2 separate regions of the Homo sapiens genome follow, and region 1 is linked to region 2. Evidence: fine-mapped expression QTL. A gene starts in region 2. The other region holds a variant in brackets. All regions are shown on one strand. Distances are between the middles of the regions. Region 1 overlaps TMEM151A (transmembrane protein 151A). Region 2 holds the start of BBS1 (Bardet-Biedl syndrome 1).

What was found.
Region 1: its variant is fine-mapped to the expression of BBS1 in unexposed skin (GTEx, PIP above 0.99).

Annotation. Positions count from the first base shown.
Region 1 is chr11:66,292,328-66,307,044 of GRCh38, reverse strand. TMEM151A (transmembrane protein 151A) reads right to left here. Exons shown (of 2, transcript NM_153266.4): 2 at 10,381-12,723. The coding sequence ends at 11,392. Among named protein-coding and RNA genes, the nearest start is that of TMEM151A, 7.8 kb to the right of the region's middle. The variant C/GC (reference allele first, on the strand shown) is at 11,008.
Region 2 is chr11:66,500,600-66,514,418 of GRCh38, reverse strand. It overlaps BBS1 (Bardet-Biedl syndrome 1), which reads right to left and starts at 3,784. Exons shown (of 17, transcript NM_024649.5): 1 at 3,713-3,784; 2 at 3,330-3,406; 3 at 3,180-3,214; 4 at 1-13. The coding sequence starts at 3,759. DPP3 (dipeptidyl peptidase 3) reads right to left here. Exons shown (of 18, transcript NM_130443.4): 17 at 9,645-9,807; 18 at 4,762-5,340. The coding sequence ends at 5,168. RefSeq lists an enhancer at 3,873-3,922.

The DNA of each region.
Region 1 (14,717 bases), 210 kb after region 2:
CTTGGGCCCGGGAGGTCAAGGCTGCAGTGAGCCGTGATCACAGCACTGAACTCCAGCCTGGGTGACAGAGTGAGATCCTGTCTCAAAAAACATTTTTTTTAAACTTAATTTAACTAAAGATAGGGGTTTCGGTATGCTGCCGGGACTGGTCTGGAAATCCTGGCCTCAAGCAATCCTCTGGCCTTGGCCTCCCCAGATGCTGGGATTATAGCCTTGTGCCACCATGCCCAACAGGAATTTGATCTTTATTAAAATAGTCTCTATACTTTTTGCAGTCTTTTTTTCTCTTTTCTTTTTTTTTTCTTTTTGAGACGGGCTCGCTCTGTTGCCCAGGCTGGAGTGCAGTGGCACGATCTCGGCTCACGGCAGCCTCTGCCTCCTGGGTTCCAGCAATTCTCCTGCCTCGGCCTCCCGGTAGCTGGGATTACAGGCACGTACCACGACCCCCGACTAATTTTTGTATTTTTAGTAGAGACAGTGTTTCACCATGTTGGCTAGACTGGTCTCAGACCCCTGACCTCAGGTGATCTGCCCACCTTGGCCTCCCAAAGTGCTAGGATTACAGGTGTGAGTCACCACGCCCGGCCCACTTTTGCAGTCTTTTATAGCACAATGTTATTGTCTTTTATAATGTATTGTGCTTTTTTCTTTTGAGACAGGGTCTCACTCTGTCACCCAGGTTGGAGTGTAGTGGTACAATCATGGCTCACTGCAGCCTCAACCTCCCAAACTCAGGCGATCCTCCCACCTCAGCCTCCCAAGTAGCTGGGACTACAGGCGTGTATTTTTTGTACAGACAAGGTTTTGCCCTGTTGGCCAGGCTGGTCTTGAGCTCCTGACCTCAAGTGATCTGCCTACCTTGGCCTCCCAAAGTGCTAGGATTATAGGCATGAGCCACTGCGCCCAGCCTGTATTGTGCTTTTATAACACATAAATTGAAACTATTCTACTGAAAAAAGTATTCGTATTTTGGTCCGTTTTATTTTATATGTTTTTTAAAAAGAGAAGAAAAATACATCTATGGCCAAGCGCAGTGGCTCATGCCTGTAATCCCAGCACTTTGGGAGGCCGAGGTGGGTGGCTCACAAGGTCAGGAGATCGAGACCATCCTGGCTAACACAGTGGAACTCCGTCTCTACCAAAAATACAAAAAAGTAGTGGGGCGTGGTGGCACACACCTGTAATCCCAGCTACTCGGGAGGCTGAGGCAGAAGAATCACTTGAACCCAGAAGACGGAGGCTGCAGTGAGCCGAGATTGCGGCACTGGATTCCAGCCTGGGTGACAGAGCGCGACTCCGTCTCAAAAAAAAAAAAGAAAAAAAGAAAAAAGAAAAATACATCTATCTTTTGGACTGTGACCATGGGTTACTGAGAACTAGCCAATTTCAGTCTCAGCTGATATTCTGGACAGAAATGCCTCCTTGGAGCAGATGTGGCACAGCTACATTTGATATGTAGTCATCAGTTTAACCAATCTGTCTGTCTTGGTCTCTGTTGAATCTGACTTCCAGGAGCTTTGACCTTTACCCAGAAGGGCAGCAGCGCACCTTCCCCATCCTCACTCAGGGTGTATCCAACTTTTGGCTGGATGCCTGATCCTCCTTGCCCTTTCCAGATACATCCCAGGCCATCTCAGCAGTGACTTCATACTCACGGGCTCTGAAGAACAGAAGGCAGCAGGTGTGATGTAAGAGGGAAGATGAAACTCACAAAAAATGAATGCACCTGGGCCTGCCACCTCGGGGAAGCTCTAGGGGTCTAGTGGTCTGGGGTCTGGATCCAAGGAGGAAACATAGAATGCCATGGTTTGCTGGATTAGGTAGTTGGCAAATGCTTCCCTGGGTGCCCTAAGTTCTCAAGCCCACTAACCAAAGATCAGAAAAGCTCCACTGCAAGTGTGGCCAAGCAATGAAAACTTTGGCTGGTCTGGGCCGTGGTCCACTTGGCCCTCAGGACCCAGCTAACCCCAGGAAGTTGGAAGTGTTGGTAGGAGATCGGGAATCATTCACTTAACACAGATTGACTAGACATCCATTATGTGTGCCAGGCACTGCGCTGGCTGCTGGTGAAGTGTGCGTATGTTGTAAGAGGGAGCGTCCACTTGTAATTTATAATAATGCAAATGATGATGATAGCAATCTTTATTGAGCACTTCCTATGCTTGAGACCCTGATTTAAGCACGGTCACATAGTATCTTTTAAGAAAATATTTATTGGCCGAGTGCAGTGGCTTCTGCCTGTAATCCTAGCATTTTGGGAGGCCGATGCAGGTGGATCGCCTGAGGTCAGGAGTTTGAGACCAGCCTGGCCAACATGGTGAAACCCCATCCCCACTAAAAATACAAAAATTAGCCAGGCATGGTGGCACATGCCTGTAGTCCCAGCTCCTTGGGAGGCTGAGGCAGGAGAATCGCTTGGACCCAGGAGGCAGAGGTTGTAGTGACCCAAGATCATGCCACTGCACTGCAGCCCGGGAGACAGAGCAAGACTCCGTCTCAAAAATAAATAAATAAATAAGAGAGCCTTAGATAAGGCCGTCTATAAGATTAGATGGGGAATAAATAAATATTTAAAAATATATATTTATTTATAGGCCGGGTGCAGTGGCTCACATCAGTCATCCCAGCACTTTGGGAGGCCAAGGCAGGTGGATCACTTGAGGTCAGGAGTTCAAGACCAGCCTGGCCAACATGGTGAAACTCTGTCTGTACTAAAAATACAAAAAATTGCTGGCCATCGTGGCTCATGCCTGTAATCCCAGTTACTTAGGAGGCTGAGGCAGGAGAATCTCTTGAACTTGGGAGGTGGAGGTTGCAGTGAGCCAAGATCTCACCATTGCACTCCAGCCTCTGTGACAGAGCGAGACTCTGCCTCAAAAAAAAAAAAAAAAATTTGACTGGGCACACAGTGGCTCACACCTGTAATCCCAGCACTTTGGGAGGCCGAGGTGGGAGGATTGCTTGAGATCAGGAGTTTGAGACCAGCCTGGGCAACATAGGGAGATCCCATCGCTACAAAATATAAACATATATAGCTGGGCATGGTGGCGTACACCTCTGGTCCCAGCTACTGCAGAGGCTGAGGCAGGAGGATCTTGTGAGCCCAGGAGTTTGAGACTAGCCTAGGCAACATGGCAAAACCCTGTCTATGAATTTAAAAAAAAGTATATATCTCTATCTATCTATCTATCTATCTATCTATCTATCTATCTATCATCTATCTATCTGTCTATCTATCTTTTTTGAAATGGAGTCTCATTCTGTCACTCAGGCTGGAGTGCAGTGGCGTGATCTTGGCTTACTGCAGTCTCCACCTCCCAGGTTCAAACAATTCTCCTGCCTCAGCCTCCCAAGTACCTGGGACTATAGGCACACACCGCCACACCTGGATAATTTTTGTATTTTTAGTAGAGATGGGGTTTCACCATGTTGGCCAGGATGGTCTCGATCTCCTGAACTCGTGATCCTCCCGCCTCAGCCTCCCAAACTGCTGGGATTACAGGTGTCAGCCACCGCGCCCGGCCTGAAGTAAATAGGTTCTATTGTCATCTCTCATTCTGCAGATGAGAAGACTGAAGAAGAGAGAGAATAAGTGACTTGCCCAGGGCTTCTCAGGTTGTAGTGGAGAGTTGGAATTATTCCAACCAACTCAAGGGTCTGGCCGTGTAACTATTCGCCTCCCATGGCCTTGATTCTTTTTTTTTTTTTTTTTTTTTTTTGAGACAGAGTCTTGCTCTGTCGCCCAGGCTGGAGTGCAGTGGCGCCATCTCGGCTCACTGCAAGCTCCGCCTCCCAGGTTCACACCATTCTCCTGCCTCAGCCTCCTAAGTAGCTGGGACAACAGACACCCGCCACCACGCCCCAGCTAATTTTTTGTATTTTTTTTTTTAGTAGAGACAGGGTATCACCGTGTTAGCCAGGATAGTCTCGATCTCCTGACCTCATGATCCGCCCGCCTCGGCCTCCCAAAGGCTAGGATTACAGGCGTGAGCCACCATGACCAGCCCCATGGCCTTAATTCTAATAGAAGAAACAGATAAAGAAACTCGTGCATAAATAAATGAAAATAATTGTAACTTATGGTGAGTGGCCGAAAGGAAATGCAAAGCGAGCTGAGAGTTGGTGGGAGAGAACTTTAGACAGAAACCAATGGGGACGTGATTTGATTTACATGAGGTCTCTGCATAGGCCGCAGGAGTAAGTGGGCGTGGGAGGCCTGTCGGAGTCATGGGGGAGGAATCCTGGGCACTTGGAGCAAGGTGGCTTGGGGTGGAGAGGAGGTGGGGTGTGTTGTGTTCTGAGTAGAATCTTGGGTGGTCGATATCACGCGTGGTGGGGCGGGTGAGGGGAGCTGACGAAATGCTACAGCTTCTAGGTCTTCTTCAAATAATCCAGTTGGAGCTCAAATAAGTGGGGCTGAGTGTGGATGGAGCCCAGAGTGGTTGCAGGTGGATGATCATCACAGCACTGGGTGCTGAGTAGAAGGGGCCTCACTGCACCAATCTTTCTGCTTTTGTGATGTTTGAAATTTTATTTTATTTTTTAGAAAAATTAGCCAGGTGTGGTCGTACACACCTGTAATCCTAGCTACTCGGGAGGCTGAGGCAGGAGAGTCACTTGAACCCAGGAGGCAGAGGTTGCAATGAGCCAAGACTGCACCATTGCACTCCAGCCTGGGTGACAGAGCGAGACTCTGTCTAAAAACAAAAAACAAAAAAAAAAAGAAAGAAAGATATTTTATTTTATTTTTGAGACTAGAGTCTTGCTGTGTCACCCAAGTTGGAGTGCAGTGGCACAATCACGGCTCACTGCAGCCTTGACCTCTTGACCTCCCAGCTCAAGCGATCCTCCCACCTCAGCCTTCTGAGTAGCTGGAACTACAGGTGAGCTCCAACACACCTGGCCAATTGTTAACTTTTTGGTAGAGATGGGCTCTCACTATCTTGCCCAGGCTGGTTTCAAACTCCCAAGCTCAAGTGATCCTCTCACCTCAGCCTCCCAAAGTGCTGGGATTACAAGCTGAAATTTTACATAATACAAAGTTTTAAAGAAAGAACAGGCCAGGCGTGGTGGCTCATGCCTGTAATCCCAGCACTTTGGGAGGCTGAGGCAGGCAGATCACCTGAGGTTAGGAGTTCAAGACCAGCCTGGCCGACATGCAGAAACCTCATCTCTACTAAAAATACAAAAATTAGATGGGCGTGGCAGCGGGTGCCTGTAATCCCAGCTACTCGGGAGGCTGAGGCTGGAGAATCGCTTGAACCCTGGAGGCGGAGGTTGCTGCAGTGAACGGAGATTGCGCCACAGCACTCCAGCCTGGGCAACAGAGCGAGGCTCGGTCTCAAAAAAAGAAGAGACAGCCGGGCGGGGTGGCTCACGCCTGTAATCTCAGCACTTTGAGGGGCTGAGGTGGGCGGATCACGAGGTCAGCAGTTTGAGACCAGCCTGACCAACATGGTGAAACCTCGTCTCTACTAAAAATACAAAAATTAGCCAGGCATGGTGGCATGTGCCTGTAATCTCAGCTACTCAGGAGGCTGAGGCAGGAGAATCACTTGAACCCGGGAGGCGGAGGTTGCAGTGAGCTGAGATCACGCCTCTGCACTCCAGCCCGGGTGACAGCGAGACTCCATCTCAAAAAAAAAAAAAAAAGAGGCGGCTGGGCGCGGTGGCTCATGCCTGTAATCCCAGCACTTTGGGAGGCCAAGGCGGGCAGATCACAAGGTCAGGAGATCGAGACTATCCTGGCTAACACTAACACAGTGAAACCCTGTCTCACTAAAAATACAAAAAATTAGCCGGGCATGGTGGCGGGCACCCATAGTCCCAGCTATTCGGGAGGCTGAGGCAGGAGAATGGCATGAACATGAACCCGGGAGGCGGAGCTTGCAGTGAGCTGAGATTGGCCACTGCACTCCAGCCTGGGCGACAGAGTGAGACTCCATCTCAAAAAAAAAAAAAAAAAAGAAGAGGCTTGCCGTGCTGGTGCCTGGCTTAGGCAACTGGCTGAATGGTAGCTCTATTTCCTGAGATGGAAGACAGAGAGGAGCAGATGGTGGTAGGGGTGGAAATTACAGGTTCTGTTCCTGCCATGCTGTGGGTAGCCTATGTCAGGAGAGAGCAGAGGCAGAGGCCGCTGGGGTTTGGGAGCCAGGCTTTGCACCCCTTCTCAGGCATGAATTCTTCTCTTGAGAACGGTTTAGAACAGAACACCTTGGCTTGATGTTGACTCCAAGAGAGTCTGAACACGTGGCCACCCCATCTCCCATCAGGAGATTGTGAGCTGAGAGCTGTCCATCAAACAATGGGGCTTCTGGGTCCCTCCTCTTCCTGGCTGTGCAGGCCCAGTGCCCTCCCTCATGAGGTGCAGGTGGGTTTAGAGCCTTGTGACAGTGATCATGTAACATGTAACAAATCACTCCAAAATGTAGTGGATTAAAACAAGGATTTATTTCCCCTCATTCTATAGGACAGCAGTCTGGGCTGGGATCAGCTTGGTAGTTCATCTGCTGGTCTCACCTTGGGTCACTCCTGAGGCTCCTGTCATCTGCGGCTCAAGTGGGGCTACAGTGTCTAAGATGGCCTCTGTCATCCCATATCTGGAGCTGATGCTGGCTCTTGGCTGGGGGCCTCAGTTCTCCACGCAGCCTCAAATCTGTCAGGAGGCTTGGCTGGACATCTTTACAGATGGTGGTCTCAGGATTGCAAGAGGGCAAAGGTGGAAGCTGCGAGAGTCCTTGAGGCCTAGCCTCAGAAGTGGGCCAACATCTCTTCCCTCACATCCAATCAGTCACAGCAAATCACAAGTCCAGCCCAGATTTAAAGGGCGAACAGATTCCACTTCTTTTCTTTTCTTTTTTTTTTTTTTTTTTGTGAGATGGAGCCTTGCTCTGTTGCCCAGCCTGGAGTGCAGTGGCGTGATCTCAGCTCACTGCAACCTCTGCCTCCTGGGTTCAAGTGATTCTCCTGTCTCAGCTTCCTAGGTAGCTGGGACTACAGGTGCACACCACCACGCCCAGCTAATTTTTGTATTTTTAGTAGAGTTGGGGTTTCACCATGCTGGCCAGGCTGGTCTTGAACTCCTGACCTCAAGTGATCCACCTGCCTTGGCCTCCCAAAGTGCTGGGATTACAGGCGTGAGCCACCGTGCCCGGCCTGATTCCACCTCTTGAGGAGAGGAGTGGCAAAGAATTTGTGGCCATATTTAATCTACCATAGGCCTGAAGGTCCCCATAAATGATCTGAGCAGCTCACTTTGCCCTGAGCAGGCCCATATCTGACATGCCACCACCTTCCTTCCTTAAACCAGCACTATAAAGAGCTTGGTGTTCATTTTGCAGATCACTTTACAGGTATCAATCAGTTAGGAATGGCAAATGGCATTTGGCTCAGCAGTTGATTGCATTTTTGAAGATGACCACTAATATATCTCCCATCCCGCATGCTTTTCTAACAATGTGACATTGACAAGCCTCCACAGAGAGATGAGATCCTATATTCCCTCCCCTTGAAACTGAGTGGACCTTCATAGTAGCCTTGACCGATGGAAAGGGGCAGAAGTGATGCCATGTGACTTAGGAGGCTAGATCACAAAGTGCAATACAGCTTTCACCCTCTCAGTATACTTGTTCTTGGAACCTAGCCACCATGTTATGAGGAAGGTCAAGCCGCTTGGAGAGGACCTGTGTGGGTGTTCCCACCAACAGCCCTAGTTAGGCTCTCAGCCCTCAGCCCTCAGCCAGCATCAACTGCCAGACATGTGAGTGAATGAGCATTCAGATGATTCAAGCCCCAGCTTTTGAGTCTTCCAGCAGAGGCCCTGGATGTCGTGGAGCATAGAAGCCATCCCCATTGTGTCCTATCTGAGTTCTTGACCCACAGAAGCCAGGAGAGAGCATAATAATTATTGCTCTTTTAAGCCACTAGGGTTAGGATAATTTGTTATGTGGCAGTAGATAATTGGTAAAAGCTGCTGGTAACAGAGACAAAAAAAAAAAGCAATGGGCTTAAGCAGACTTACAGTTTATTTCTCTTTCTCATTGAAGTCTGGAGGTAGGCGACCCAAGGGATGACATGGAAACTTGCATGGTGTCATCAGAAGCCCAGGATCTTTTCCCTTGTTGCTCTGCTGTCTTCAGCATGTGGCTACAATTTTCTTTTTCTTTTCTTTTTTTGAGACGGAGTCTTGCTCTGTCGCCCAGGCTGGAGTGCAGTGGCGCAGTCTCGGCTCACTGCAAGCTCCGCCTCCCGGGTTCATGCCATTCTCCTGCCTCAGCCTCCCAAGTAGCTGGGACTACAGGCGCCTGCCACCTCGCCTGGCTAATTTTTTGTATTTTTAGTAGAGACAGGGTTTCACCGTGTTAGCCAGGATGGTCTCGATCTCCTGACCTCGAGATCCGCCCGCCTTGGCCTCCCAAAGTGCTGGGATTACAGACATGAGCCACCGCGCCCAGCCTGTGGCTACAATTTTCAAGGTCATTTCCTGCTCCAAGATGGCTGCTGGCGTTCCAGCTATCACATATGCATCCAAGGCTGAATGCAGGCTGAAGCAGAGAGGACAAAAATGGCCTTCATCAATACTGCTTCTATTCAAGGGGCATTCTTGGAGATCCCTTCCAGCACCTTCTGTTTATATCTAATATCCTAGAATTCAGCCACACAGTCATACCATATATGCCAGGGAGGCTGGAAATGTTGCCCTTTAGCTGGGCACATTGCCTTCTGCAGCAAAACTGGGGTTCTGTTATTGGGGAAGGGAGGAGAATGGACAGTGAGTGGCCAGTGGGCAGTTGTTGGCTATGGTGTTAGAGCAGAATGGTGGAAAAAGGGTCTTTCCCATGGCAAGGAGCTGAAACCAGCATGCTGGCCTCCCTACCTGCTGGAGCCTTTTTTTTTTTTTTTTTTTTTGACAGTCTCAGGTGGAGTGCAGTGGCGCAATTTCAGCTCACTGCATCCTCTGCCTCTCGGGTTCAAGCGATTCTCCTGCCTCAGCCTCCTGAGTAGCTGTCACAGGTGCCCGCCACCACACCCAGCTAATTTTTGTATTTTTTGTAAAGACGGGGGTGGGGGGTGTCTCACCATGTTGGCCAGGCTGATCTCAAACTCCTGACCTCAAATGATCTGTCTGCCCCGGCCTCCGAAAGTGCTGGAATTACAGGCATGAGCCACTGTGCCTGGCCACCCCCTGCAGCCTTGTTGAATGTTTGGGCACCACAGGGTTTTCCACCTAATTTGCTTCTGAACGAGGAACTGATTTCACACCCAAAGAAGAGAGGCTGTGGGTTAACGCACAGGGAGAACTCTGGTCTTTCACTCCACCCTCCCGACAGAGCCAGCAGGTCGCTGGACTTTTGCTAAATATCCTAAAATGCAGCCTTGACTGTATCACGTCCCTGCCCAACCCCCTTCCATGGTTCCAGATTGCCCAGTTTGCTCCAGTTTAAGGACAAATTCTAGGGTTTGGCATGGAAGCTGCAGCAAAGCCTTCCATGGCTTCTTGCTTCTATCTCCTTGTCACACCTCAGCTCATGCCCGACAACCAGGCCTTTGTCTGGGCAGCATCGGCTGTCCAAGACATTGCTTGCCATGTCTTTGCTTAGTGAAATCCACCCATTCTCAGCACACTTCCCGGGCCACCACTAGCCCTTAAGCCACCTTTGCGTGAAAAGGAAAACGGTCCCCTTTCTCCAAGTGGATGTAGCTCCATGCCAGAGTTTGGGGAGTGGCCTGTAGGCTGGATTCCATGCACGCTTGCCCCTTAGCCCACTGCCCTTGCACAGTGAACACCCTTTACTGCTGCACATGTGACAATGCCACGTCCAGGAATCTTTCAGAGCTCCATCAGGGAGTCAGGACCTTCCTTTTCCCTGATGTTTTCTCTGCCTTTGGATTCCATGCCAGCCTGCCCTGGTTTGGGGCTGCCCTTTCCAGCTTTGTGTCTTCTGACCTGCTTCATGCCCTTTCCCTCAGATTGATAATGTCAGTAGCCGCTGGGGGGGCACCGAATTCGAGTCACAGACCATAGCTCTTTCTCCCCACTTTGGGGACCGGCCACCACTCCCTTAGCCCTCGGCATGCCCAGCAGCAGAGTGGAATGTCCCACTGAGCTGGAACAAGGGCCACCTTGACAATGCCTTAGCAGTGACCCAGGCCCAGATACCGGAGTCAGGGGAGCCAGGTGCTCAGAGCGCCTCACACTTGAGTCTCAGAGGCCCCAGGCTAGGCAGGGGAGGTTTCCTCTCCTCTGCTTACTTGGTTCCTGGGAACACTGGAGCCCAATTCTGAGTCCCTTCCCAGAACCCCTCATCGTGCCCTGAACCATGGGGGCCCATAATGCTTGCAGTGGAGGCCTTAGACCCATGACCCAGGAATGCACAGGCCTTCCATTCCATACCTTTATTTAATCTGCATCTTCTCAGCCTCCTCCCTTCCCCGCCACCCCTTAGAGGGCGTGGAAGCCCTCGTTGAAAGGGAAGGAACTCCTCTCTCCTCCCTGGGGGAGGGTCAGTGTCCCCTGGGCCAAGACTCGTTGATGGGAGAAGCAAGGGCCTGCGTGGTGGAGCAAGGACATCATCCAAGAGGCTGTGGCCAAGGCCCAGCCCCTCGGATGCCCTCTAGGCCTGGGCCCCATGGATCATCAGGAAAGTGAAGAGTAGATAAGTCCGGGAGGGCAAGGAACGGGCGTCCCTGCGTGTGTGTGGCTGATGGAGGCAGACATGGACTTTGGGAGGCAGGAGCAGAGGCCAGGGGATGTGGGGACCAGGTGAGGCCCTGAGAAGGAACCCCAGGTTGTAGGGGTAGCTGCATGTGGGGGGAGTGACTGGCCCTGAGCAGCGGGAGAGAGGGCAGGCAAGGAGGAGGGGCCTATCAGGGGAGGATGGGAATGTTGGGTGAGTAGCAGGGCCAAGGCCATGGTGCCACCACAGCCAGCTCTTCAGCCCCAGGGAAGCCAACCTGGCTGGGCATGGCCCCAAGCCTCCAATTTGTGCTTCTGCGTCACTGGGGGGG[C/GC]TCCCAGCATGGCCTCAGCCCCGGTAGGGAAGTGTCCACAGGCAGCCTCTGCTGCAGGCAACAGCTGGCCGCAGGACTCCTCCTCCATCCCAGCCTTTCTGGAAGCTTCTTCTCCTGCCCTTTGTGAGAGGCCTTCAGGCCAGATCATCGGCCATCTTGGGGGATGAAGCCATGCTGGGGGCGATTCTTAGGCTTCCACTTCCTCCAAAATGACCACAGGTAACTGCATTTTAGTCTGTTTAAGGACCCCCACCCCCACCCTCACCCCTGCCCCTTGTGTGTGGCTGGTCTGTTTTCCCGCCTGTTTTGGACAACAATCACTCGGGCATCTAAGCCCATGGTGGAATGGTGGGGAGGGGGCCACTCTGGGGGCCGTGGGGGGTCTCAGAGAGCACCCTGCCCATCCCCCTGGCAGCCGCTGTCTCCGTGGACAATGAGCACCGGGAAGTAGAGGGCGTCCTCATAGCAGGGCGGGCTCTCCAGGGGTTCCGTGTCCTCTCCACGGCGCCCCAGCGGCCCCCCGCTCAGGCTGCGGAAGACCCCTGGCGTGGCCCGGCCGCCAGCGCCCAGCGAGAGGCGGCTGCGGCTGAAGGGCAGGCGGGGCCCGCTGGGCCGGGCGGGGGGCAGCGAGTTGCTGCTGACAGAGCGGCGGCAGCGCTGGCAGCCTCTGAGGTAGGCGCCCGAGCCCGCGCCCATGACCACGGCCTCCGAGTAGCTGGGCACCAGCTGCCGGTTGGAGCAGATGTGCCACTCGAGCTCAGTGAAGTCCACTGTGGCCACGCGGGACAGCGGGGGCCCGCTGGGCACGGCCCCCGGCGGGGGCGAGCTGGCGCCAAAGAGCTTCTCCACCTGGTAGTGCACGTGAGCCGTGCCATAGGCGGCCACGACGCGCAGGGGCCACGACAGCGTGGCCGCCGACACGAGCCAGAAGACCCAGGCGCGCGCGTACCAGGGCGGGCTGCGGGGGTCGGCGAAGACCATGAGCGACTCGCGGAAGTCTACGTCCTTCAGGTGCATGCCCTCGCGCGCCTCCAGATAGTCGTCCAGGCCCTCGTTGGCGCTGAAGAAGCGCGCCCGCTGCGTGAGGTACGAGGCCTCGGCCTCCGCGCTGCCGAAGCTGAAGCACTTGGTGAAGCGCAGCCGCGTGGCCGCGTGCTCCGCCAGCCCCACCAGCTCCTTGGAGACGTCGCGGACGCCGTGCGCCGAGTAGTCAAACTCGCCGCGGGCCGTGCGGCTGTCAGCGCGCTCATGGTACACCTGCGTGGTGGTGTAGGCGTCGCCGTTGCGGTAGCGCGTGATCTGGCGTGTGCGCCGCACGTAGTGATAGCTGGTGGCCTTCCACCAGACGCACGGCGGCGCCTGCTGCAGCCGGCGGATCAGCGCCAGCACCGTGTGGGCGTCGGTGCGTGGCGCCTGGCAGGACCGCACGTGACAGTGCCAGCACTCAGCCAGGTAGAGGAGGTAGAGGAGGGAGACGAAGGCCAGCGGGATGTACAGGTAGCCATCGGAGCAGGGGCTGGCCGGGTAGGTCGGTGGCGGGCCCCCGGCTCCCCGGGCCAAGGCGGCCTCGGGCCCCAGGACCAGCCGCGGCACTGTGGCCAGGCGACACCAGGCCACCACGGCCCCGCAGGCGTGGATGAGCAGCGTGAGGAGCAGGCACTTCCAGTGCGACTCGCGGCACAGGGAGCTTCCCAGGGACTGTTTCAGGGGCCGCTGCTGCAGGTGGGCAGAGAAAGGGAAGTCTGTGTCAGGTGGGGCCATCAGTGGGGCCTGCCACTTTGCTTAACCCGGCTGAGGAAGGTGATACCGTGAGCCCCATTTTACAGAGGAGGAAACTGAGGCTTAGAGGGATGAGCAGCTTGCTCCAGGCTTCACATTTCCAGCTCACTCACAGTGGCGCTGCATATTCAAACCCAGGACTCGCTGCCCCAAACCCATCCTCCACTGTGCCGTGCTAGCACTCGGCAAACCGCACACAGGAGACAGCAGGCCCACCTCAGCCAGGAGGGATGGATCCTTGCACTGGCTATTGTGGGTTCTGGTCCTGGCTCTGCCCTGATTTGCTGTGTGGACTTGGCTATATCTCTGCCCTCTCTGGGCCTTGATTCTTGGTCCTGTTGGTTTGGGAAGCCAGGGTGGAAGGGGTCTGAGGTGTAAACAGCATGGGCTTTGGAGTTCCACTGCCCAGGAGCCAGTGCTGGCTCCACTACTTACTGTATGACTTGGGCAGGTCCCTCATCCTCTCTGGACCTCAATTTCCTCATCTGTAAACTGGTTCTATTGTGAGGATTCAACAAGATCATATGTGTGAAGAAGTGAGCACAGGGTCTGGCCATGGGAATAAATATGATCACCATTACCCTGAGACTCCCTCTGGTCCCTTGTTCCATAGGGACTCAGAAGTCTCGGCAGAGGCTTTTGAGTTGATGAGAAAGAGGGAGCCTCAAGAACGGGGGAGGTGCGAGTCTTGGGGTGGGGAGCAGATGGAGGGCCATCCTCCACTCCCCATCTGTGCTGAGCAAGGGGGTGGGACACAGCTACTGGGCAGCAGGGGCCACTCCCTGGCTCAGAGGGCTTGCCACACCCTCCCTGGCAGGGCTGCCAGCCTAGCCACCTCACCCTCAGGTGCCATGGAGAGAGAAGCAGGTAGGGATAAAGTGGGGCGAGGGGAAGGGTAAAAAGGGGAGGAAAAAAGTGGAAACAACAAAAGGGGGGTTAAGGGGCCACCTCTCCTACCCCAGACCTACCAGGCCTCCAGAGGCCCAAGAGGAGAGGAACCACCCCCTAGCCCAGCCCAGATACAGCCTGTCCCCATCACCCAGCATGGGAGCACAGCGCCAGCTGACCTGCAAGGCCTGTCAGGTGCACACACACTTGTCCACGCCCCTCCAACACATGCTCATCACAGACCCACCCACCGTGGAGGGCCACACTGCCTGTCACCCAGGAAACTCCAGACCCTCGCCTGTCCCCAGGGCACAGACTCCCAGAACCGTAGCATGGTACACACACATACACACACACACGCACACACCACATACCCATCCACCACAGGACACACACGTGCACATACACGTTGCACGTGCAGTGAAGCCCAGAGACATACCAGACCTTCACCTGACCACAGTGCACATCTCCCCACCCCCCACTGCAAACTGACCCCCAGGCTCCTCAGACTCCACAGGGAGAGACCTGCCCACAAAGGGACTCACTCACATGCGCACACCTAGACCACTGGGTGACAACCCGAGCCAGGCACCCACTCGCCCCTCACCTGACTACAGGGCGCACACACCCAATTCACACACCCACACAACACACACACAGAAGCAGGCTACATTCACCCAAATGCATGCACAGCCCCACTCACCACCCTATCACCCCACACATCACTCGGGGCCCCAGGTCCTGCAGACCTTCCTGGCTAGGGCTGAGGAGGGGCCGTCGGGGGTCCCAGCCAGCAGAATGGGCCCTCAATCCTCACCTCGAGGACAAGGAGAAGGGGTACCCAGGCGCCTCCCTTCCTCTTCCCCTCCTCCCCTCTAGGCTCTGCGACTGCTGCTGCATTGCAGGCGCTGCCCGGACACCTCGTGAGCGGCTGGGCCGGGCTGGGGACCTGACCCCGCGGCCCTGGGGGTGGGGGCAGCATCCCCCGCTGCGCTGCGGCACTGGGACGCGTGGGGGCCAGGCACTGACGTCACAGGACGGGC
Region 2 (13,819 bases):
CCCCTACCACCAGCTGCAGGGAGAGGATGGCTCATTCTAGGCTCAGGGTCTGAAGACCTCTCCACTGACCCTCTTCTTGCCTTATTGCTGGTGCACATTCATTCATTCCTGCACCAATAAAGGCTTTGCCCTCAGGCTTTCAAGCTGCCTGACCTTGGGAAAGTTGACTAACCTTTCTGAATCTCAGGTTTCCCGCTTGCAGAATGGTGATACTTTCATGGTATGTGGTGAAAATCAAGTGAGATAATGAGTTACAGAACCTGGTAAGTGCTACTGAGGAATAAGTGGCAGTTGATGTTTTTATTATTCATTCAGCAAACATTTCTTCCACACCAGGCACTTCTAGAGAGATACTGGGACAGTGGTAGAGGTCAGTGTGGGAGGGGACGGGGACACCCATATCTGGGCTGCTGAAGCCTGGTTTCCAAATGCAGGGCAGGATGTGCTCTGTGGACACACAGAGGGGAAACAAGCTCCTTGATCTCAGCTTTCCACCCTCTAATCCATCTTCCAAGCTGCTGGAGCTGCCACACAAGCCCATTTCCCTGAATGAGGCCTGGAAGGCCTCTCTGATCTAGTTCCCAACTTGTTTCCTATCACCCTTCCCATTGCTGTGCTCCGGCCAGAAAGGGGGTACCCAAGAACTCCTGGATACTGAGCATGCAGTATATGCCAGGGACCACATCAGAAACTGCATGCATCGTTTCATTTAACCCTCTCAACAGTCTTATTATTTTTAAGCGACTGGGTCTTGCTCTGTCACCTAGGCTGGAGTGCAGTGGTGCGATCATGGCTCGCTGCAGCCTCAAACTCCTGGGCTTAAGCAGTCTTCCCACCTTAGCCTCCCAAGCAGCTAGGACTACAGGTGTGTGCCACTACACCTGGCTTTCAACAACCTTATGAAGTAGGCACCATTATTAGCCTCATTTCTCAAATGAGGAAGCTGTGTCTTAGAGAAGTTAAGTAAAAGTCATACAGCTATTAAGTGGTAGAGCTAGTTCTGTCTGAATCCAAAGCCATAGTCTTAACTACTATTTTATGTGGTAGTTATTTTATATGGGTCTCAACTTTCTAACTTCACATTTATTCTTTCCAAATATGCTATGAACTTCTAAGTCTCTGTCCTTCTGCTTGTGCTGTTTCTTCTACCTGAAATGCCTTCCCCATCCTCTCATCCTTGACTTCTTGATAGACTTCATTCATCCTTCAATGCCCAGTTCACACATTACTACCTCCTGGTGCCTCCAGACAGAATCCATTGTTCTCGTTGGCGCTCCCGTAATACTTTCTACATGTTCAATTTTAGCATCTACTCACTTCCCCACAAATATTTATCAAGTACCTACTTTATGTCAGGTACTGGACTAGATGCTGGGACTCAATGGTGAATAAACTAGCCATTAAACATTCTATTATGTGAAGATATTTAACATTTCTTTTTTTTTTTGAGATGGAGTCTCGCTCTGTCACCCAGGCTGAAGTGCGATGGCGTGATTTCGGCTCACTGCAACCTCCGCCTTCTGGTTTCAAGCCATTCTCCTGCCTCAGCCTCCCGAGTAGCTGGGATTACAGGCGCCTGCCACCACGCCCGGCTGATTTTTGTATTTTTAGTACAGACAGGGTTTCACCATGTTGTCCAGGCTGGTCTCAAACTCCTGACCTCGTGATCCACCCGCCTTGGCCTCCTCCTAAAGTGCTGGGATTACAGGCATGAGCCACTGTGCCTGGCTAACATTTCTTATTAGCTACTGTGTCTGTGGTTTCTCTTCCCTCACTATTGTAAGCCCAGAGCCAAATACAAACTAGGTATTCAATCAATATCATGGAATAATTGTCGACAGTGTATCTCCTCCTGACCACATGCTGATGCATTTCTGAGTGTAGTGTCCCCATGATGCCTGACACACAGTAGGGACTCACTATACACTTGCTGAATTACTGAATACATTATGGATAGGAATTTGGGGGCAAAAACCACTGAGTCCTATTGCACTCTCTGTGTGGGGTGGGATTCCAGGACTATCTTCTAGCCACCCACATGATATATCCATTGTGGTGTTGTTGCCCATGGTGAGGGCTGAGCTTTGGTAGAAAAAGCACAAAACTTGGAATCAAACAGACCCAGTTACAAATTCAGTAAACTTCACCTCTTTGAAACTATTTTCCCATTCACAAAATGGGAATAAATAAAATCCATGTTTATGTGCCTCCATGGAATGTCTAGTCCAGAAATGGATACTGAATCCATGCTAACTTCCTTTCTTTTATCCCAATATATTTCTCTACCTTTAAAAAACTTGTATCTTTTTAAATTTACATTTTTATTTAAAATTAAATATATGTATATATATATACATATATATACACATATATATACATATATATACATATATATACACATATATATATATATATTTTTTTTTGAAACTGTCTCACTCTGTCATCCAGGCTGGAGTGTAGTGGCATGGTCTCAGCTCACTCAACCTCCGCCTCCTGGGTTTGACCAATTCTCCTGCCTCAGCCTCCCAAGTAGCTGGGATTACAGGTGCCCATCACCATGCCCGGCTAATTTTTGTATTTTTAGTAGAGATGGTGTTTCACCATGTTGGACAGGCTGGTCTCGAATGCCTAAGCTCAAGCGATCCACCCACCTCAGCCTCCCAAAGTGCTGGGATTGCTGGCCTTAAAATTAAATTTAAAATGTAACATTTTTACTATGGAAAATTTTCATTCACATACAAAAGTAGAGAGACTCATATAATGAGTCCCCATATATCCCATTATCCAGCTTCAAAAATTGACAGCTCATGGCCCATCTTAAAATCTTTTGATAAACATCAAACGTTCACTTCCCTCCTTTTTACTTTCCCTCCAGATTCTAGTGCCCACCCCCAACCAAGGGATTTGCCCTTCCAACAAAGAAATCAGGTTAACTAAGAGGCTTTGTCTTAGTAGAATCCCCAGAAATATTTGATCTGCTTTACTTTCTGCAGTCTGTATTATGAAATCAATAAGTTCTCTTCACTTTCCATATAAAAACAAAATTTAACGCTAAATGTGCTTTTTCACAGTATATGTGAATTCCAGAGTATGCTGGGCCTATTTTCAGCCGTCAGGAAATCTCATTTCTGGGTACACCCCCCTACCCTCAACTCTCCTGGCTAGGGTGATATGCTTACCTTGTATTCCCCATCCCCATGTAAATCTGCCAGCGCTGGAAAACAAAAGGGCCAAAACCAGAGTCTCAGAATCCCAGAGGCTTCACTACAGGACCATTGTCTGACTCCCCATCCCACTAGAACCCAGGGTTCCTGGTTCCAGAGACTCACCTAGGCAGGCAGAAAAGGTGTGGATATTGGCCATTGGGTCGTAGTGCGCATCCAACCACTTCGAATTGGCCTCATTGCTGGAAGTGGGGGAAAGACAGTTGGGGAGTGAGTCCCATGGGAGGGGAAAAAAAAACTTTGAGGAAGCTGGTACAGGTCACTCTGAACATAAGGTACAGAACGTCTGGGTACAAGTCCAGGCTCCGCCACTGGCTCACCGAGCGACCTCCAGACACACATATGCACATCTTAGGCCTCGGTTTCCCTATCTGACCTCTTAAGAGTCCTTCCAGACTGCCCGAGAACAGCAGGAGCCCAGAGCCCGGGGACCAAGGGACCCTCTTTACACGGGTGGGAAAAGAGGCCTTGAGGAGCCCTGCCTTCACCTCTCAGCTCCGCAGGCGTCGGAATCCGATGAGGACGCAGCGGCCATCTTCGCAGGCGTCGTCCTGGCAACCGGCCCCGCCCTCGCGTAACGCCCAATAGTGCCCGAGCACAGGGAAGGGCGAGTACAAAGGTTCCGGGCGCCAAGCTTTCCCACCCAGGCTCAGGAGGACGCGCTGGCCACCTTCCTGGGTTGAGGAATCTGTCTCAGATTCCTCAAAGATATTTATCTTTGCTCCTTCCCAGTCAGAGCCACCTTTCCAGGCGTCTGGGTCCTACAATCTCTGGGTCAGCCACAGAGCCCTCTGGCTTCCAGGGTTGGAAAGAAGCCCCTTCTAGCATTTATGAGCAGCAAAAAGAACTCCTCCTGTCTCCATCTTCATGGTTACCCGGTTGAAAAGGACCATGTCCTGCCTTGCTGCGTTACTGTAGAGGTCCAGGCCCAGAGAAACAAAACACGAGGGTTATGGGACAAATGCAGAGGATTCTGACTGAAGTTGAGTTTGTAGGTTCCCAGAACTTTTTTTTTTTTTTTTTTTTTTTGAGACGTAGTCTCGCTCTGTCGCTTGCGCTGGAGCGCAGTAGCGCGATTTCGGCTCACCGCAACCTCCGCCTCCCGGGTTCCAGGGATTCTCCTGCCTCAGCCTCCCGAGTAGCTGGGATTACAGGCGCATGCCACCATGCCCAGCTACTTTATTTTTTAGTAGAGACGAGGTTTCACCATATTGGCCAAGCCGGTCTCGAACTCCTGACCTCGTGATCCCCTCGCCTCGGCCTCCCAAAGTGCTGGGATTACAGGCATGAGCCACCGTGCCCGGCCCCAGAACATTTAAAAATGCAAGGAATGCCACAAAGGAGAGCTGCAAAAATTGTGCTATGTTCAGCTCTGTGACTGCGTATCCTCATCTAGAGATAATGTCAACATCCTGTTGTGGAAGGGAGGCTAAAAATGGCCCTCCTTGCCCCCTCCCCAGGCCTTGAGCCCATCACTCTGCTGGGAGTAAATGAGAAGACAGGCAAAGGCAAGGAGGAGCCACACACGCCGCAAAGATGGTGGTTGTCTCTAATATTTATTTGTCTGGTTATAAAATTAATATGTGAGGAGCATTGGATTTGGTGAGAACGTTTTGAACCCTAGCTGTCACGTGCCACCTGCGGGATCTAGACCAGTGACTTCTCAGAACTGCCATTTCCTCATCTGGTAGACAGGATGGTAAGCCCTGTCTTGCTCACTCCACGTATGGCAGTGCAGATGAAATGAGATCACAGAGGGGAAGCAATTGGCAGGCTGGAAAGTGCTGACAAATGGAAGGGGTTGTGTCACCACCCTCAGCTGAGGTAGTACCAAGGTCCAAGCTCCTGCCCCTCCCCCTCCCCAGCCCCTAAATACACACACGAATGGAGGGCCACTTGCAGCCTTGGTCTGATGGAATTGGGGGCAAGGCCACACATCTTCCTCAAGCTTGGCCAGATGGGGCCTCACTGGGGCCCTTCCAGAATCGGGCATCGGCTGTGGCCAGCTGTGTGAGGATCTCCTCCAACTCGGGTCCATCCTCTGGGAAACGCTCAGAGAAGGATCGGATGAGGCCAGCAGCTGACGCCTCGTATTCCAGAAGCTGCACGTCTGAGCCTGGGGAGGAGATGGAGAGAAAACAGCAGGGAAAGGTCTGAATAGGGAAACTGAATCATCATAAAAATCTTAATAATCACAATTACAGCAGCAGCTGTTTCTTACTGAGCTCTGCCAAAAAAACCTGTGCTCTACGTTTTAGGTTAATTACTTAATTTACTCTTTACAGTAACCCTGTGAGGAAGGAAATACTACAGGGGGAGTATTAAATGCATTGCTGCTTTCGTTCATTCAGTCAATCAAATAAAGATTTAGGCTGGGCATGGTGGCTCATGCCTGTAATCCTAGCACCTTGGTAGGCTGAGGTGGGAGGATCACCTGAGGTCAGGAGTTTGAGACCAGCTTGGCCAACATGATGAAACACTGTTTATACTAAACATACAAAAAAATTAGCTGGGCGTGGTGGCATGAGCCTGTAGTCCCAGCTACTCGGGAGGCTGAGGCTGGAGAATTGCTTGAACCCGGGTGGCAGAGGTTGCGGTGAGCAGAGATCGTGCCACTGCACTCCAGCCTGGGTGACAGTGAGATTCCACCTCAAAATAAATAAATAAATAAATAAATAATAAAAGACACCAGGTGCCACACTAGGTGAAACAGATACAGTCCTTGGTGTCCTGAAGCTCACAATTCAGCAACGACTTCATCTGTCTACTGTGGGACCTGGGGCAAGTGTTGCAACCTCCCAAGCTTCAGTCTCCTCATCTGTAAAGGAGCTGCAGTGATGACATAGTCACACATCGAGGGGGTGCTCAACAAATGCTAGCCACCATGGCATCATTATCTCCGAACCTGTTTACTGATTTATTAAATGGGCTGTTCTGAGGGTCCCCTGAATACCCCCGGGAAGCACTGCCCTCAAACACACTTCAACTGCTCTACCCTCTCTGTGCACCTTGTCGTGTTCCATGACATCACAAGCTGCACAGCAGCAAAGAGCACAAGCTCTGGAGTTCAAGTTCTGGCTCTGCCACCCAACAGCTTTGTGACCGCAGGCAAATACACAGCCCCTCTGTGCCTCATTTTCCAGATGAAAAATGAGGATAATAACCATTTCTCTCTGGGTTGTTAGGAGTTAAGCCATAGAAAGCTTTTACAGCGACCTGGCTGGGTGTGGTGGCTCACACCTGTAATGCCAGCACTTTGGGAGGCTGAGGCGGGTGGATCACTTGAGGTCAGGAGTTCGAGATTAGCCTGGCCAACATGGTGAAACCCCATCTCTACTAAAAATACAAAATTAGCTGGGCATGGTGGTGGGTGCCTCTAATCCCAGCTTTTTGGGAGGCTGAGGCCGGAGAATCATTTGACTCCGGAGGTGGAGGTTGCAGTGAGCCGAGATCTCACCACTGCCTGCGGGACAGAGTGAGACTCCACCTCAAAAAAAAAAAAAAAAACTTTTTACAGTGCACCACCATCACAACCTTTGAAAATCCAACCTGTTCTTCAGATCTAGTGGGAACCACCCCTTCCTCCCCAGAACGTTCCCGGATACTCTTGAAGATGGATGCGATCTTCCCTCCTCTAAGTGTTCAGAGTTCTGTTTATATGTTTTGGCCACTCATTAACACTTCCCTTGTATGATTATGATGATGATTATTATTATTATTTTTTTTTTTAGATGGAGTCTCGCTCTGTCACCCAGGCTGGAGTGCAGTGACGCAATCTTGGCTCACTGCAAGCTCCGCCTCCCGGGTTCAGGTCATTCTCCTGCCTCAGTCTCCTGAGTAGCTGGGACTACAGGCGCCTGCAACCATGCCTGGCTAATTTTTTGTATTTTTAGTAGAGACGGGGTTTCACCGTGTTAGCCAGGACGGTCTCGATCTCCTGACCTTGTGATCCACCTGCCTCAGCCTCCCAAAGTGCTGGGATTACAGGTGTGAGTCACCGCGCCCGGCCCCCTTGTATGATTATTTATCTCCATATCTTATCATCCCCAGTGAGCTGTGATCACCTCCGGATCCCTAGTGGCTCCCCCATGGCTCGCACAGGGCTGGACATATCAAAGCAATTGAGAGTATTGTCCATGTGGCTGGCATGATTTATTAATGCACTCATTTGACAGTCACTGAGCAACTCCAGTGTGCCAGGCTGTGCATGAGGCACTGGGGTATGCTGCTCCTCCCATCATGAGAAGTGACCACCAAGAAAATGGGCAAGCGTGATGGGCGCTAGAAGAAAATGAAACTGGGTAGCAGAACAGAGAGGGACCGAAGCAGTTACTTTAGGTGGAGGGGTCAGAGACAACCTCTCTCACAGGGTGCCGTTTTACAAGGAGCGGAAGGACAAAAAGAACCAGACAGGCAAAGATCTGGAGGAAGATCATGCCAAGCAGCAAGAACAGCTTATTCAAAGGCTGTAGGAGTGGACCCAGCTCAGTGGGTAGAAGAAACAGAAAGGTCGGGAGACTGGAGTACAGTGAGCCAGAGAAGGGGTGGTGAGGCTGGCAAGGGTTGGGGCCAAATCCCAGGAAGCCTCTGGAGAGCATGGAAAAGCATCTAGAATGAGCGTCTTAATAAATGCTTTTTCCGGCTGGGCATGGTGGCTCACGCCTGTAATCCCAGCACTTTGGGAGGCCGAGGAGGGTGGATCACCTGAGGTCAGGAGTTCGAGACCAGCCTGGCCAACATGGCAAAACCCTGTCTCTACTAAAAATACAAAAATTAGCCGGGCATGGCGGCACGCGCCTGTAATCCCAGCTACTCAGGAAGCTGAGGCAGGAGAATCGCTTGAACCCGGGAGGCAGAGATTGCAGTGGGCCAAGATCGAGCCACTGCACTCCAGCCTGGGCAACAAGAGGGAAACTCCGTCTCAGAAATAAATAAAATAAAATAGCCGGGTATGGTGGCTCACGCCTGTAATCCCAGCACTTTGGGAGGCTGAGGTGGGTAGATCACTTGAGGTCAGGAGTTCGAGACCAGCCTAGCCAACATAGTAAAACCCCGTCTCTACTAAAAAAAATACAAAAATTAGCTGGGTGTGGTGGCGGGCGCCTGTTATACCAGCTACTCGGGAGACTGGGGCAGGAGAATCGCTTGAACCCAGAGGCGGAGGTTGCAATGAGCCGAGATTGTGTCACTACACTCCAGCCTAGGCGACAGAGTGAGACTCCGTCTCAAAAAAAACAAAAACAAAAACAAAAACAAAACCAACCCAAAAACCAAATAAATAAATGCTTTTTCCTCACCAATAATAGGTAGTGACTTTTTGCAAATATTATTCTATGTAACCCTCACAACTGCCCAGGACAATGCTTTTTTTTTTTTTTTTTTTTTAAAGAGTTGAGGTCTTGCTCTGTAGCATTGAACTCCTGGGCTCAAGCAATCCTCCTACCTCACTCTTTCAAGTAGCTGGGACTATAGGCAGGGGCCACCATGCCTGACTCAACCACTCTTAATTTGACTCTTGGCTCCTCCACTAAAAAGCCATAAGCCTTGTGCAAATTACTCTCTGTGCCTCAGTTTCCTTACCTGTAAAATGGGGATAACAACAATACCTACCTTATTGGGCTACTGCAAGGATTTAAAAGGTTAATCCCCAGAAAGCACTTAGAAACTCTAAGAAGGAATTCAGGTTCACGATAACATCAGCAAGCAGTCCACACTGCCTTTATGAATGAAGACACCAAAGTCTAGAAATGTCAGGTGACTAGGCCAAAGTCACAGGGTGGTTCTGAAGCTGGTGCTCTAACCTCTCCATAACACACATCATCTTAGGTATCTCAAGTGACAAGTAGCAGGAAAGATGAGTCAAGGGGTGAGAGGAAAGTGAAGGCAGTAAGGGGCTGGAACCCCAGGGGGTCTGAATACGAAAGATACAAGCACCGTGTGGCCAAGGCTCTGGAATTGTCGCTTGAGAAGGAAGCGGGATGATGCAGCTGTTGATCACCATCCTGGATGTGACCGAGTCCACTGTCCCCTGGGTTTCACTAGGCTTGCTGGATCCCAGCTCCCTCCTCACCTGACCCCCAGCCTGGGTACCCAACAGGTCTAATTCTTTGGTATGAACGCCTGGCTTCCCCCTAAGTCTGCATGTTCTGCTATCCCCTGCTCTGGTGGTCTTCTTCAAATCTTCTGTCACTGTCTTACAACTTGCATGACTGTGTGTGTGTCGGGGGGGTGGTGGGTGGTGACAGATACCAAGATAAGGGCCTGAGGTTTGGCATGGGAAGGACCTTGGCAGAAAGGGAAGGGCCATCCCAGGCTGGGTTAGGTTCTTATTGAGCCCTGGGATGGGTTCTTACTGCTTCCCAGAGGGCCCTGTGTGGTGCTCATCAAGGGAGCTCAAGAGCTCCCTCATTACCTCATTACCTTCAAGGCGAGTGTTGGGCTGAACAATGAGCTTCCGAGATTCCTTACGCAGCAGCACCGTGTCCCTGAGGGTGAGGAAGCACTCGGGGGGCGCATCAGTGACTGTTGCATACCCCTCGTACAGGGCCCGCCCTCCGGCCACATCCCCTGTGGACTTCAGCACCTGTGAGAAGGATGGAGTAAATGTCTAGGATGGGCAGTTACCCGGTGTCCACAGGGCTCTGCCATAGGCCACAGCTGATTGTGGTCAGCCCTGGACAGTCTGTGCTATGGTTTGAATGTGTCCCCTCCAAAATTCTGGTGTTGAAACTTATGGTTAAGTTTCAACTTAACCATTAAGGCTCCTTCCTCTTGAATGGGATTAAGGCCCTTATAAAAGAGGCTTCAGGCTGGGTGTGGTGGCTCACACCTGTAATCTTAGTACCTTGGGAGGAGGAGGCAGGGGATCACTTGAGCCCAGGAGTTTGAGACCAGCCTGGACAATATGGCAAGACCATATCTCTATGGAAAAAAAAAGGCCAGCCATGGTGGCTCATGCGTGCAATCCTGGGCACTTGGGGAGTCCGAGGTGAGAGGATTGCTTGAGTTTGAGACCAGCCTGGTTAACATAGTGAGACCCCGTCTCGTCTCTAAAAAAAAGGAAAAGAAAGAAAGAAAAAGGAAAACAGGCTTCATGCCTGTTTGGCCCTGTTGCCATTTTGCTTTCCACCATGTGAGGCCACAGCATTCCTCCCATTCCTCTCCTACAAATAAGGTATCTTCAACAAGGTATCATCTTGGATGGAAGAGAAGAGCAGCCTTCACCAGAAAATGAACCAGCTGGTACCTTGATCTTGGACTCCCCCACCTCCAGAACTGCCAGAAATAAATTTGTGATCTTTTTTTTTTTTGAGACAGAGTCTTGCTGTCACCCAGCCTGGAGTGCAATGGCACAATCTTGGCTCACTGCAACCTCTGCCTCCCGGGTTCAAGTGATTCTCCTACCTCAGCCTCCTGAGTAGCTGGGACTACAGGTGCGTGCCACCACGCCCGGCTAAATTTTTGTATTTTTAGTAGAGATGGGATTTCACCATGTTAGCCAAGATGGTCTCCATCTCCTGATCTCGAGATCTGCCCCGCCCCGGCCTCCCAAAGTGCTGGGATTACAGGCGTGAGCCACCATGCCTGGCCAATTTCTGTTCTTTATAAATCACCCAGCCTCTGGTATTTTTGGTGTGTTACAACAGCACAAGACAGACTAAGACACTCTGCAAAATGCTGGGCCCTGTCACTTACAGGCAGTGTAACCTTGGACAAGTTACTAAACCACTCTGACCTGTTATCTCTAAACAAGAATAGTTCTACTCTCTCATAGTGTTACTGTGCTGAATGAGTGAGAAACACAGATCAGTGATTAGCATAGAGTAAATGCCCACAAAATTAAAGCTAATGTTTCTCGTTTGATTATCTCATTTGACATGTAGACAAGGCAGGTATGACCATTACCCTTTATAAAATAAAACATTTCTGGCTGGGCACGGTGGCTCATACCTGTAATCCCAGCACTTTGGGAGGCCGAGGCAGGCGGATCACCTGAGGTCAGGAGTTCAAGACCAGCTTGGCCAACATGGTGAAACCCTGTCTCTACAAAAATATAAAAACTAGCCAGGTTTGATGGTGGTGCCTGTAGTCCCAGCTATTCAGGAAGCTGAGGTGGGAGAATCGCTTGAACCCAGGAGGTGATGGATGCAGTGAGCCAAGATTGCACCATTGCACTCCAGCGTGGGTGACAAAGTGAGACTCCATCTCAAAAAAATAATAAATAAATAAAATAAAACATTTCTTACACATACAAGATACAGTATGTATACCGTAAAGAATATTAAAACAAACACTCGGGCCGGGCGGGTGGCTCATGCCTGTAATCCCAGCACTTTGGGAGGACGAGGTGGGCGGATCATGAGGTCAGTAGATCAAGACCATCCTGGCTAGCACTGTGAAACCCCGTTTCTACTAAAAATACAAAAAATTTGGTTGGGCGTGGTGTCTCACGCCTGTAATCCCAGCACTTTGGGAGGCCGAGGCGGGTGGATCACGAGGTCAGGAGATCGAGACCATCCTGGCTAACATGGGGTGAAACCCCATCTCTACTAAAAAATACAAAAAATTAGCCAGGCGGGTGCCTGTAGTCCCAGCTACTCGGGAGGCTGAGGCACGAGAATGGCATGAACCTGGGAGGCGGAGCTTGCAGTGAGCTGAGATCACGCCACTGCACTCCAGCCTGGGCGACAGAGTGAGACTTGGTTTCGAAAAAAAAAAAATTAGCTGGGCATGGTGGCACACGCCTATAATCCCAGCTACTCGGGAGGCTGAGGCAGGAGAATCTCTTGAACTCGGGAGGCAGAGGCTGCAATAAGCCAAGAACTTGCCACTGCATTCCAGCCTGGGGGACAGAGCGAGACTCCCATCAAAAAAAAAAAAAAGACGGACACTCATACAACCCCCACCTCACCTCAGAGTTAGTTCAGCTGCTTCTGCTTGACTGCACTCTGTGGCTGTCCCCATCTAAGGAAACCACTATCCTTGATATTGTACTTTCTTTTTTTTGAGATGGAGTCTCGCTGTTGCCAGGCTGGAGCGCAGTGGCGTGATCTTGGCTCACGCAACCTCCACCTCCCAGGTTCAAGCAATTCTTCTGCCTCAGCCTCCTGAGTAGCTGGGACTACAGGTGTGCACCACCACGCCCAGCTAATTTTTGTATTTTTAGTAGAGACGGGCCGCCATGTTGGCCAGGATGGTCTCAATCGTTTGACCTCATGATCTGCCCATCTTGGCCTCCCAAAGTGCTGGGATTACAGGCGTGAGCCACCGTGCCCAGCCGATATTGTAGTTTTTAAAAAACTCTCTTGCTTTCCCTGAGTTTTACTCTCAATCATATATTAAGTTCTTGCCTGCTTTTTTTTTTTTTTTGGAGACAAAGTCTCAGTCTATTACCCAGGCTGGTGTGCAGTGGCAGATTATCAGCTCACTGAAACCTCCACCTCCCAGGTTCAAGTGATCCTCCTGCCTCAGCCTCCTCTGTAGCTGGGACTACAGGCACCTGCCACCATGCCCACCTAATTTTTGTATTTTTAGTAGATGTGGGGTTTCACCATGTTGGACAGGCTGGTCTCGAACTCCTGACCTCAGGTGATCCTCCCGCCTCAGCCTCCCAAAGTGCTGGGATTACAGTGGTGAGCCACTGTGCCCGGCCGGTTTTTGAACTGTATATATTGTGATTTTCTTTTTCTGCTTGGATTATGTTTGAGATTCATTTGTGCCAAAACATTCAGCTATAGTTCCCCTTCTCACTGCTGTGTATGTAGTCTTTTACTTATAAACACACAACTTCATCTCCTCTACTGTTCATGTGTAATTTGGTGCTTTTTTTTTTTGAGACGTAATTTTCACTCTTGTTGCCCAGGCTGGAGTGCAGCAGCACGATCATGGCTCACTGCAATCCCCACCTCCCGGGTTCAAGTGATTCTCTTGTCTCAGCTTCCCGAGTAGCTTGGAGTACAGGATGCGCCACCATGCCTGGCTAACTTTTTTGCACTTTTTTTTTTTTTTGAGACAGAGTCTCACTCTGTCGCTTGGGCCGGAGTTCAGTGGCACGATCTTGGCTCACTGCAACCTCCACCTCCTGGTTCAAGCGATTCTCCTGCCTCAGCCTCCTGAGTAGCTGGGACTACAGGCAAATGCCACCATACCCGGCTAATTTTTTATTTTTAGTAGAAAAGGGGTTTCACCATGTTGGCCAGGCTGGTCTTGAACTCCTAACCTCAGGTGATCTGCCTGCCTCGGCCTCCCAAAGTGCTGGGATTACAGGTGTGAGCCACCATGCCCAGCCTTTTTGTACTTTTAGTAGAGATGGGGTTTCACCATGTTAACTAGGCTGGTCTGAAACTCCTGACCTCAGGTGACCTGCCCGCCATGGCCTCCCATAGTGCTGGGATTACAGGCGTGAGCCAGTGCGCCCGGCCGGTGCTTTTTGCTAATAATGCTGCTGTGAACATCCCTGTATGTCTCCTGATGAACAGATGCAAGTTTTTCCAGAACTGATTCTGTGTCGGTGACAGGAGTGCTCAACTTTAAGAGATGACGCTGCTGTTTCTTAAAATTCGTATGTAATTCAGCCTTCCAAAAGCAGTGGATGG